2 separate regions of the Homo sapiens genome follow, and region 1 is linked to region 2. Evidence: fine-mapped expression QTL. A gene starts in region 2. The other region holds a variant in brackets. All regions are shown on one strand. Distances are from middle to middle.

Evidence for each region. PIP is the estimated chance that this variant, and not a neighbour inherited with it, causes the effect. A credible set is the group of variants that fine-mapping cannot tell apart.
Region 1: its variant is the best candidate, but not a certain one, in a credible set for the expression of B4GALNT3 in tibial nerve (GTEx, PIP 0.82).

What each region holds. Positions count from the first base shown.
Region 1 is chr12:513,280-518,653 of GRCh38, forward strand. All of the region lies in intron 1 of B4GALNT3 (beta-1,4-N-acetyl-galactosaminyltransferase 3), which reads left to right. Among named protein-coding and RNA genes, the nearest start is that of B4GALNT3, 56 kb to the left of the region's middle. The variant A/AC (reference allele first, on the strand shown) is at 2,697.
Region 2 is chr12:457,706-463,079 of GRCh38, forward strand. B4GALNT3 (beta-1,4-N-acetyl-galactosaminyltransferase 3) reads left to right here and starts at 2,234. Exons shown (of 20, transcript NM_173593.4): 1 at 2,234-2,840. The coding sequence starts at 2,672. RefSeq lists an enhancer at 1,402-2,385.

The DNA.
Region 1 (5,374 bases), 56 kb after region 2:
AAGCAAATTTATTAAAAAAGTAAAGGAGTAAAACAATGACTATTCCACAAGCAGAGCAGCCCTGAAGGCTGCTGGTTGCCCATTTTATGCTTATTTCTTGATTAGATGCTAAACGGTGTGGGTTATTCGTGCCTCTCATTTTTAGGCCATATAGGGTTAACTTCCTGATGTCGCTGTGATGTTTGTAAACTGTCATGGTGCTGGCGGGAGCATAGCAGCGAGGACAACCAGAGGTCACTTTTATCACCATCTTGGTTTTGGTGGGTTTTAGCCGGCTTCTTTCCTGCAGTCTGTTTTATCAGCAAGGTCTTTATGACCTGTATCTTATGCCTCCTATCTTATACCTCCTATCTCATTCTGTGATTAAGAATGGCTTAACTTACTGGGAATGCAGTCCAGCAGGTCTTAGCCTTATTTTAGCCAGCCTCTATTCAAGGTGGAGTTGCTCCAGCACCTCTGACAATAGCTCACTACGGCCTCAAACATTTTTGTATAGACGCGGTCTCCCTATGTTGCCCAGGCTGATCCCTAACTCCTGGCCTCAAGCAGTCCTCTGACCTCAGTTTCCCAAAGCATGCGGATTACAGGCGTGAGCCACTGTGCCCAGTCCATTTCTTTTTATTGCTAAGTTATATTCTGTTGTGTGGATAGACCACATTTTGCTTCTCCATTCATAGTTGATGATGGACATTTGCATTGTTTCCGCTTTTTGGCTATTAGGAATAATGCTGCGCTGAGGCTTTCATTTCTGTTGGGTGTATACCTGGGAATAGAACTGCTGGGTCAAATAGTAACTCCATGTTTTGAGGGACTGTCAGATTTTTCCAAATCGGCTACACCATTTTACATTCTCACCAGCCATGTATGAGGGTTCCAATTTCTCTATGTTCTTGCCAACACTTGTTATTGTCCGTTTTTGTTTTTTTTTTTTTTTTTGAGACGGAGTCTCGCTCTGTCCCCCAGGCTGGAGTGCAGTGGCGCGATCTTGGCTCACTGCAAGCTCCACCTCCCGGGTTCACGCCATTCTCCTGCCTCAGCCTCCCAAGTAGCTGGGACTACAGGTGCCCGCCACCACGCCTGGCTAATTTTTTGTATTTTTAGTAGAGGCGGGGTTTCACCGTGTTAGCCAGGATGGTCTCGATCTACTGACCTCGTGATCTGCCCGCCTCGGCCTCCCAAAGTGCTGGGATTACAGGCATGAGCCACCACGCCCAGCCTATTTTTTTTAAATAAAAGACTAATAAATTCTATTAGTATGAGAGCAAGGAGGAAGGCATGGAAGGTTGTTGCACTGTCAACATTAGTTATGGTGGGGAGGCAGAGAAGGAGAAGAGATGCTTTTTTTTCTTATTTATGTCTGATCACTGGTTGTGGTGAATACTTGGGATTTCTAGGAAACAAAAAAGGGTCCATGTATAAGAAGAGTTTAGAATTGAATCAGAATAGTGGTTAAGAACACAAATTCTGGGCTGGGCGTGGTGGCTTACACCTGTAATCCCAGCACTTTGGAAGGCCAAGGCGGGCAGATCACCTGAGGTCAGGAGCTCGAGACCAGCCTGGCCAACATGGTGAAACCTCGTCTCCACTAAAAATACAAAAATTAGCCAGGCTTGGTGGTGGGAGCCTGTAATCCCAGCTACTCGAGAGGCTGAGGCAAGAGAATCGCTTGAACCTGGGAGGTGGAGTCGAGATCGCACCACTGCACTTGAGCCTGGGTGACAGAGCAAGGCTCTGTCTCAAAAAGAAAAGAAAGAAAGAACACAAATTCTGGAACCAAAGACCTTGAGTTCCTGGCTCCACAACTTACTAGCCATGTGGCAAGTTACTTAACCTCTCTGAAGTTCAATTTCCTCATCTGTGAAAGGAAGGCAATAATAGTACCTACCTCAAAGGGGTTTTTTTGTTGTTGTCGTTGTTGTTGTTTTTTGAGACAGTCTCACTCTGTTGCCAGGCTGGAGTGCAGTGGCGCAATCTTGGCTTACTGCAACCTCCACCTCCCTGGGTTCAAGCGGTTCTCCTGCCTCAGCCTCCCGAGTACTGAGTAGCTGGGGCTACAGGCGGGCACCACCACACCCAGCTAATTTTTTTTTTCGTATTTTAGTAGAGACGGGGTTTCACCATGTTAGCCAGGGTGGTCTCAATCTCCTGACCTCGTGATCCACCTGCCTCAGCCTCCCAAAGTGCTGGGATTTTAGGCGTGAGCCACCGCACCCAGCCTCAAAGGGTTTTTATGACAATTAAAAGGGATAAATTTGTAAGATGTTTAAGACACTGCCTGGCATATTGTAAATGCTAAATGTGTTAGCTCTTATTGTTTTTATCATCTCGTATTTATCGAATATTTACCGTATGCCACTCTCATTTGATCCTCATAACCCCGTTTGGGAAATACTACTAATATAGCTGTTTCACAGAGATGAAAACCAAGGCTTAGAGATTAAGCTAGATGTCTTAGCGCCTGACTCTGAAGTTCTTCCCCTACTGCCTATAGGGATACTATTGTCAGTAACATTGTTTGTTGAACAAGTACCTATGTGCTGGGCATAATGAAAAAAGTAGACAAAAATCCTGCTTTCAGCCGGGCACAGTGGCTCATGCCTGTAATCCCAGCACTTTGGGAGGCTGAGACTGGTGGATCACGAGGTCAGGAGATCGAGACCATCCTGGCTAACGTGGTGAAACCCCATCTCTACTAA[A/AC]AACACACACACACACAAAAATTAGCCAGGCGTGGTGGCGGGTGCCTGTAGTCCCAGCTACTCGGGAGGCTAAGGCAGGAGAATGGCATGAACCCGGGAGGCAGAGCTTGCAGTGAGCCGAGATAGTGCCACTGCACTCCAGCCTGGGCGACAGAGCGAGACTCCGTCTCAAAAAAAAAAAAAAAAATCCTGCTTTCATGGAACATACATTCAAAGTATATGTGTGGGGAGAAGATAGATTTTATACACATGCACACATAATATGTCAAGTGGTAATAAATGCTATTGAGAAAAATAATACAGAGTTAGAAAGAGAGTGATAGGCTGGAGGTAGCGTGTTATTATAGATAGGATGATCAGGAAAGGCTTCTGATATTTGAGCAGAGATCTGAGTAAAAAGGGCAAGAAACCTTCGCAGGGAAGTGTGTTTTAGGTAGAGGACATGCAAAGGCCCGGGGTACAGCATGCCTGGCATATTGGAAGGACAGCAAGGAGATCAGGGTAGCTGGAATGAAATGGTGGTAAAGAGATAGGAGACAAGGTCGGAGATTTAATCTGCAAGGCCTTACTCGTTGAGCAACCATATAATTGATTGTTTAAATTGGAATATTTTTGAGAGTGAAAGCAGGTACCATTAATAATTGTCAGGGTAACAAGTGTAAACTGGGTCTTTCCCCAATAAACGTTACTCATTGGCCATCAGAAGGATCTTGGATTGTATTTGAGTGATTTGGGAAGTCACTGGAAGGTTCCAAGCAAGGACTGGCATGGCCTGACTTACATTTTGGTGGAGTTCCTCTGGCTACTAGACCATAGGTGCAGGGGTGGATACAAGGGGACTGGAAGAGCGATGATGTCTAGGACTGGAGTGGTGGAGACGGAGGAGGGAGAAGTCATCAGATTTTGGATGGCTTTTGAAAGTATGGCTGATGAGACTTGCTGAGGGATTGGATATGGGGAGAGGAATCAATGAGGGATTGGATATGGGGAGAGGAATCAAGTAGTTTGAAGATTTTTGACCTGGGTGGTTGGAAGGCTGGAGTTGTCATTTACAGGATGGAGAGGTGCAGGTTTGGGAGGAAAAATCAAGAGTTAGGTTAAGTTTCAGATGCCTTTGGTATCCAAGTGAGAGAGTGAGTAAGAAAATTCACTGTATAAGCGGGGAGTTCAGGCTAAGGCTAGGGAAGTCATCAATGTACAGATGGTGTCCCAAAAAACCTGCTGAGATCAGCAAGGCAGCAGTGTTGATGGCAAAGACAAATATCGGGGACTGACCCTAAGGTAAGCAATCCAGTGTTTAAAGGTTAAAGGAAAAATGAGGAGCATTTAGCAAAAGGATAAGGAGTAGCCCATGGGAGAAGATCAGGGATTACAGGGGAATCATAACCTTCTGCTTGACACACTTCTGTACTCTGTGATTTAGGGGGAGGGAGGTAAACATATGTTACTTGTATTTTAGAAACAAAGCTTCTGGGTTCCAGTCAGGGACCCAAGACAGGTGTCTTGTGGGAGGCGAGGGGGTTGGAGGTGGCCCTGTAAAATCTAGGTCTCTTTAGGGACAGTGATGTTATTTCCGTTTTATTTTATTTCAGTGATTTATTTACATTCCCAGACCCAGCAATTCCACCTTCCCCAAAATGCCTATTCATGACCTACTTCCCCATGATGTCTTCCCTGACCACCAGGATCCTCCTCTCTGGATTCCAGGAGACTTTGCTCAGTGCTCAGTTATGTACTTGTCATGTTATCAAACCCATCCTTCCTGCATGAAGCAGGGCTGTGCCATGGGGAAAGCATAGGAGAGGCAGGCTGGGTGTGAACTCCAGTCCAGCCATGCATTAGCGGCCGTGGCAGGACCATCAGCCATGACTTATCAATTCCTCACCAGTGGGGCTCCACAATACTGGCTTCACAGGATTGGAATGAGAATTAACCAGGCAGTAGTGGGAAGAGTGAGGTCTTTGAAACCAAACAGAATTAGTTTGAATCCCAGTTTAGCTACTTTTAAGATCTGGGGCAAATCATGTAAACTCTTTAAACCTCAGTTTTATCGTTAGGAAAATGGGGAGAATAGTACCTTACAGGGCTGTTGTGCATTGGAAATTAATTCATTCATTTACCTAATTCATCTTTCCAGCTGAATTATGAGGGTAGAGGGGTGAAACAACTGGGCTTTAAGATATTAAGGAACTTGCCAAAGGTCACAAGCTAAAAAGTGGCAGGGTGGGAATTCAGTTCCAGATCTTTCTGCTCTGAAAGTGGTTCTTACCCATCTTCAATCATCCACTCAGAGCCAAACAAGGCAGCTATGCGCAGTTGTCTCTTGGTATCCACGACGGATTGATTCCAGAATTCCCCATGGATACCAAAATCCGAGGATACTCAGGTCCCTTATATAAAATATGGTGCAGTATTTGCATATAACCTACATACATCCTTCCATATGATTTTTTTAAGACTCTGGGTCTCACTCTGTTCCCCAGGCTGGAGTGCAGTGGTGATCATAGCTCACTGCAGACTCCAACTCAGGGACTCAAGCAGTCCTCCCTCCTCAGCCTCTAGGACCACAGGCGTGTGCCACCATGCCCGGCTAATTGTTGTTGTTGTAAAGATGGGGTCTGTTGTGTTGCTCAGCCTGGTCTCCAACTCCTGGGCTCTAAGCTATCCTCCCACCTCAG
Region 2 (5,374 bases):
AAACAGCATGCTTCTTGTTTTAGATCTCTCCCAGTTCCTACATAATAGATGCTTCAAGCATTTGGTTGACCGAAGTGATTGCATGAGCTTTCTCAGTCTTGAGGAGAGAATTGTGGCAAGGCTGCCACCTGTTTCCATGACAAAGTGTTAAAAGTGACTCAACCTAAAATCCAGTTGGGTTGCCCTTAGTAAGAGAGGGACTCTATTTACAGGGCCCGGTCACTTCCCACTTGACTCAGCCGAGCTTGCACAGGCCGTGCACACACTGGCTGCTCCTATCTTGGACTTGTGGAAAGAAAGAAGAACATGAGAAGTACAGGAATCTGTGGCTTTGGAACTTCACAGAGACCTTTCCCAGGGGCTACAATTAGAGAATTGTCCTTTGGATTCACCCTTTTTGCTAAAGAACTGCAGTGAAAGTTCTGGAAGATGTTTGCTCAAAGTGCTACCCCCATCCTCAAACCTTCCTAAGTGCTAAGTGGACATTGTACCACCCACTGGAAATGCAGCTCCCATTTTTGAAGCCTTACAGTGAGGTTGGGAAAACAAGACTCACACACTCCAAGTAAGTTCCAACATATCAGATGGTGAGACAGATGGCAAGTTCTACTAAAGCTCCAGAAAGGAAGGAGTTGCTTAGGACTTGGCTGGTCCAAGAAAGCTTTATAGAATCTGAAATGGACCTTGGATAAAGGGTACAAGTTGACCAACTAGAAAAGAAAATGTGTTGGAGGGTAGTGAATAAACTCGTTTTAGCTGGAGCAGGTTTCATGTGGTCACATAAAGTTGGAAAAGGTTCTGGAAGGCCCTGAATTCTGGATTTACAGTGTGTATCTTAATCAATAAGCATTGGAAGCCATTAAATATTTTTGAGCAGGTGTGTGACTACATACGGGATTTTTTTTTTTTTTTTTTTTTTTTTGAGACAAGGTCTTGCTCTGTCACCCAGGCTGGAGTGCAGTGGCATGATTGTGGCTCACTACAACCTTACACTCCTCCCACCTCAGCCTCCCGAGTAAGTTAGGACTACAGGTGTGTGTCACCATGCCTGGCTTTTTATGAAGACCATCTGGTGGTAGTGGACAGGATGCGATGGGAAGCTTGGAGTTGGGGAGGCTAATTAGGAAAAGTCCTGTAGAAACTATTGAATATCCAACTGAGGTGAGAACAGAGAGAAGGGAAACATAGTTCTCAATTCTGTGAGAACCTCTGTCTTGGAACAGTACTTGTGTGATATTCATTTGATTTTAAAATGTCCAGGAACACTTTGATCCTTCACTTTTCCCATAGTCTCCTGACCATTTTTCCCAGAAGAGATAATGGAAAAGAAAACTGCAGTATAACTTGCTGAGTGACCTGGGGCAGTTATTCTGCCCCTTGATACTTTATCTAATTTAAATCAGATAATAATGCTTTACCTGCCTGAAGGCAGAGGACTGGAATACTGATTTTTTTTTTTTTGAGACAGGGTCTTGCTGTGTTGCCCAGGCTGGAGTGCACTGACGCAATCACGGCTCACTGCAGCCTTGACCTCCAGAGATCAAGAGATCCTCTTGCCTCAGCCTCTCAAAGTGCTGGGACGACAGCCGTGAGCCACTGTGCCTGGCTTATCTTGCTGATCTTTTCAACTCTAAGAGTGAATACTTTTCTTTTCTTTTTAAAATTCTTTTTCGGAACCCTCAAACACCTACTCTCTTCAAACAGCCATTCCAGCCCAGTCTGGGGAAAACTGCTTGCTGGGGTTCACCGTGGGGGCTGTACGACTTCCCCAGCGCCTCTCGGAGATGTGGTTCAGGCTGGGAAGAAAGGTCTTCAAATCTCAACTGGAAAACGAAGCTATGTCTGCGTTAAGCGTCCAGTGGCTCCCGTGATATTTCACGCCTACTGGTTTCGTCAAGCAGGGAGTCGGGTCGTTGCTGTTGGCGACGAAAGGCTCTGAGGCTAAAGCCTTGGGCGTCGCCCAAACCAGCCTCTACTTCGCTTCTGCCTAAAACCACACCGTTAGGCGCCTGGGTGGTGACTCGGTTTCCCTCGGTCACCCAGAGTCCGCATCATCACTCGCCCCCTCCTCATCCCACCCGTTCCCAGTCGGGGGAGGCACCAGGCACCAGTTCTCTGGCCCCACCTCTCGCTCCCCTAGGGAAGCCGAATGGCCTCTTCGCGTCCCTGGCTTCTCGGGGGCGGAGCCCACCTGTGCCCGGGGCGGGGGCGGGGGCGGGGCCGGGGGCGGGCCAGGTTCCGCGAGCAGGAGAGCCCAGAGCCCGGAGCCCGGTCCGGGGCTGGCGGGGGCGCGGGCGGAGGCAGGCGGGCGGGCGCCGGGGAAGCCTCCTTCTGGGCAGCGAGTGAGGGCGGGCGCGCAGGGAGGGAGGGCGGCAGCGAGCCTGCGACGGGAGAGGCGTGGGGAGGAGAGCCCGGCGCGGAACACACGCGCGGAGGAGGAGCCGGGCTCGGCTCCCGGAGAGACCTGCTGGGCGCCCGCGCAGCCCGGAGACCCCTCGCGCCCGGAGCATGAGCCCGAGCCCCGCCGGAGAGCGGCCGGGAGAGACGGCCTCGGCGCAGCCCTGAGACGCTGGGCCGGGACGCGGGGCGCCCTGGGCGCGGGGCCCGGCCGGGGGGCGGCGGCTCGGGGGGTTGGAGCCCGCGCTGGCGGCGGCCGCCTCGGCGCAGCGCCATGGGGAGCCCCCGGGCCGCGCGGCCCCCGCTGCTCCTGCGCCCGGTGAAGCTGCTGCGGAGGCGCTTCCGGCTGCTGCTGGCGCTCGCCGTGGTGTCTGTGGGGCTCTGGACTCTGTATCTGGAACTGGTGGCGTCGGCCCAGGTCGGCGGGAACCCCCTGAACCGGAGTAAGTAGCACCCAGGGGAGGCGAAGGGCGCGGGGGTGGGCGGCGGCGGCGGCTCCTGCGTTGGGGGGACCCGCCTCTCATCCCATCCTCAGACCCGATTTCCCACCCATTTCTCCCTCAGGTGCCCGGCGTCGCCCCGCGCGTACTCGGGGAGAGCTGCGGGCGGGGGAAGCCGCGGGGCCGAGCGCAGAATTCCCGAGCCCGGGCCTGCCCGCCGGCCACGTGGGTCCGGGGCACCCTGGGGGCTCCTCGCGTCTCCCCTCGGAGAGCGACCCGGAGAGAGGCTCCCCGCCCGTCCCGCCGAGACGCTGGCGGAGACCGGGCCCCTCCAGCCGCTCCGGGCTTGCGGTTCCCGGGGAGGAGGTCCGTGGGGTCCACGCGCGAGCTAGGGATTCGGGTGCGGGATGCCCTCGGCCGTCCACACCCAGGCGCGCGCTCCAGTCCGCGCAGCCCAAACTTTGCCCACCGCCTTCTGTTTGGCTCACTCCGTTTCCTCTCCTGCTGCATCTTCTAGGGGGGTTCTTTTTTACCATACCTCGGAGAGTCCCGTCTCTTCCCCGCTTCCCATACGTCGCTCCTCTCCCAGCCTCCGTCCTCGGCTCTTTGAATCTCCCACCTCCTCGCTGCGCCCTCTTTCTCCTGTTCGGGCCGCCCCTTCTGCCACTTTTCTGAACCCTGAGCAAATCTACCAAACTCCCCAGTTTAAGGAGATGATGGACAGCACAGTGGACCGGGCAGCAGGTAGATTCCTACTTCTGTTTTTAACTTAGCCAAAGCCACTTAATATTTCCGTGCCTCAGTTTCCTCCTAGGAAAACAGGAGAGCGTGGTCTCTTTGCCTTTTTACATCAATAGGTATGGCTGTGCGAGGTGGTTTTCAACGTACTGTGGATGGGCCTAACAAAGTAAAACTGACAGTGACAGGGGCCGTAAAAGATCCTGTAATAGTTGGGAAAAGAAATGGAGAAACTCCCGTTACTACCAGGTGCCCAACGCAAGCCCGGGGAGCCGAGGTTCAAAGTTCTGGCACGTGGCCTCCCATGCCTTCACTTTCCTCCCGCTTTGGGGAAACTCGGACAGAGTGGCTGAGCAAGCAGCTGAGAAGATACTCTGACTCTGACCTGTCGTCGTGTCAGCTTCTCTACCCAGAGTTGGGTGTGGTGCTGTGCCTTCTCTTGTGGCCAAAGAGAGAGAATTACTAGGGACAGTCGCTGAGCTGGTTCAGGTTGGAAATGTATATTTATGGCCTAACCTTTCTGTGGTGATGGAAATCATTCCGGCTGTGAGTTAGAGGAGACTGGCTCTGCCACTAACTAGCGGGGGAATCAAGGGAAAAACGACAGCTTCTCAGGTGAAAATGAGGCCTTTGGTCCAAATGATCTCCAAGGTGTCTTTCAGTCTGGATACGAAGACTGATCTGCACGCAAGCGTTTCCAGGGCCAGAGAGCTCAGCACATCACCAGGAAGCCATAGCTTCCACCCCGGGGCCACGACTCCAAGCAGCAGAGCCCCTTCCTCTGATGACCAAAATCTGCCGCCCATAGTGAATTCTTCCCTCCTCTGGGCCTTGTTCTTCCTTCTGAAAGACAGAGAGTGAATCTATTCTCCCCCGCCATGGCCACTCAGGCCCAAATGGATGAGCTCCTTTGGAGTGTGTGTGGGTGGGGGCCTGGGAGGCGACACCTCCTCCCAGTGTAGCCATCATTTTGTTTAGCCAGTGGGATCTTGTGCACAAATTAAAAACAGAGAGAAAGGCAGTTGCTTTGTGACCTTGGAATCAGTAACCTCCCTTTCTCCCTCTCCTCACTTTTCTTTTACCTCCGGTGTGTTTTCTCCCCAAACCTGGATCTAGTTTGCCACAGTCATAATCTGACACTCTGGCCCTCGACCTCTGCCTCTGTCTCCCGTGGGCCGCCTCATTCCGAGCCATCAATTCTTGAGTCTGTTGGGTTCCCCTCCCAGAAGAATCTTAACTCTCTGACTGGGTTTCCTTATTTTTTATTTTCTTTTCCAAACCAATTATCCAGAAAACTCTTCCCAGCCTCTATGCCAGAATTGACTTCGTTTCCTTACTCATGGTTTTTAACAGGAGGCTAAGCTCACACACTGATGCACCTTGTTTCCTCTCTCCTCTTAGAACCCTGAAATTCATCTATTGTGCAGGGTGTCTTTTTGTCCTGCGCTGTCCCGTTATATTCTACTCTCGATTTCCCTGTGGAATAAGATTTAGACTGGAGCTGTGGTTTCTGCCTCCTTGTCTCCCATCCTTTTTTGTTGTTAAGAAGCCCAGACATCTTGCATCAAAGTTCCCTCTTTTCCTATAGGTTTCATTCTCAGCTCAGAGCTATTCCTCTGGAGGGAGAGCCAGGGAGGAGGCATTAGGAAAGGAGAGGTGGGAAGGGGGTTGCTAGCATTCCCACCTCCACACTCTTGGATACCAACAGGAACCAGGGTAGTAAAACTGCACCTCCCAGGCCTGTACCTCTGGCCTCAACCACAGCAACCAGAACCAGCTTGTTGGCTCTGCTTTCCAGC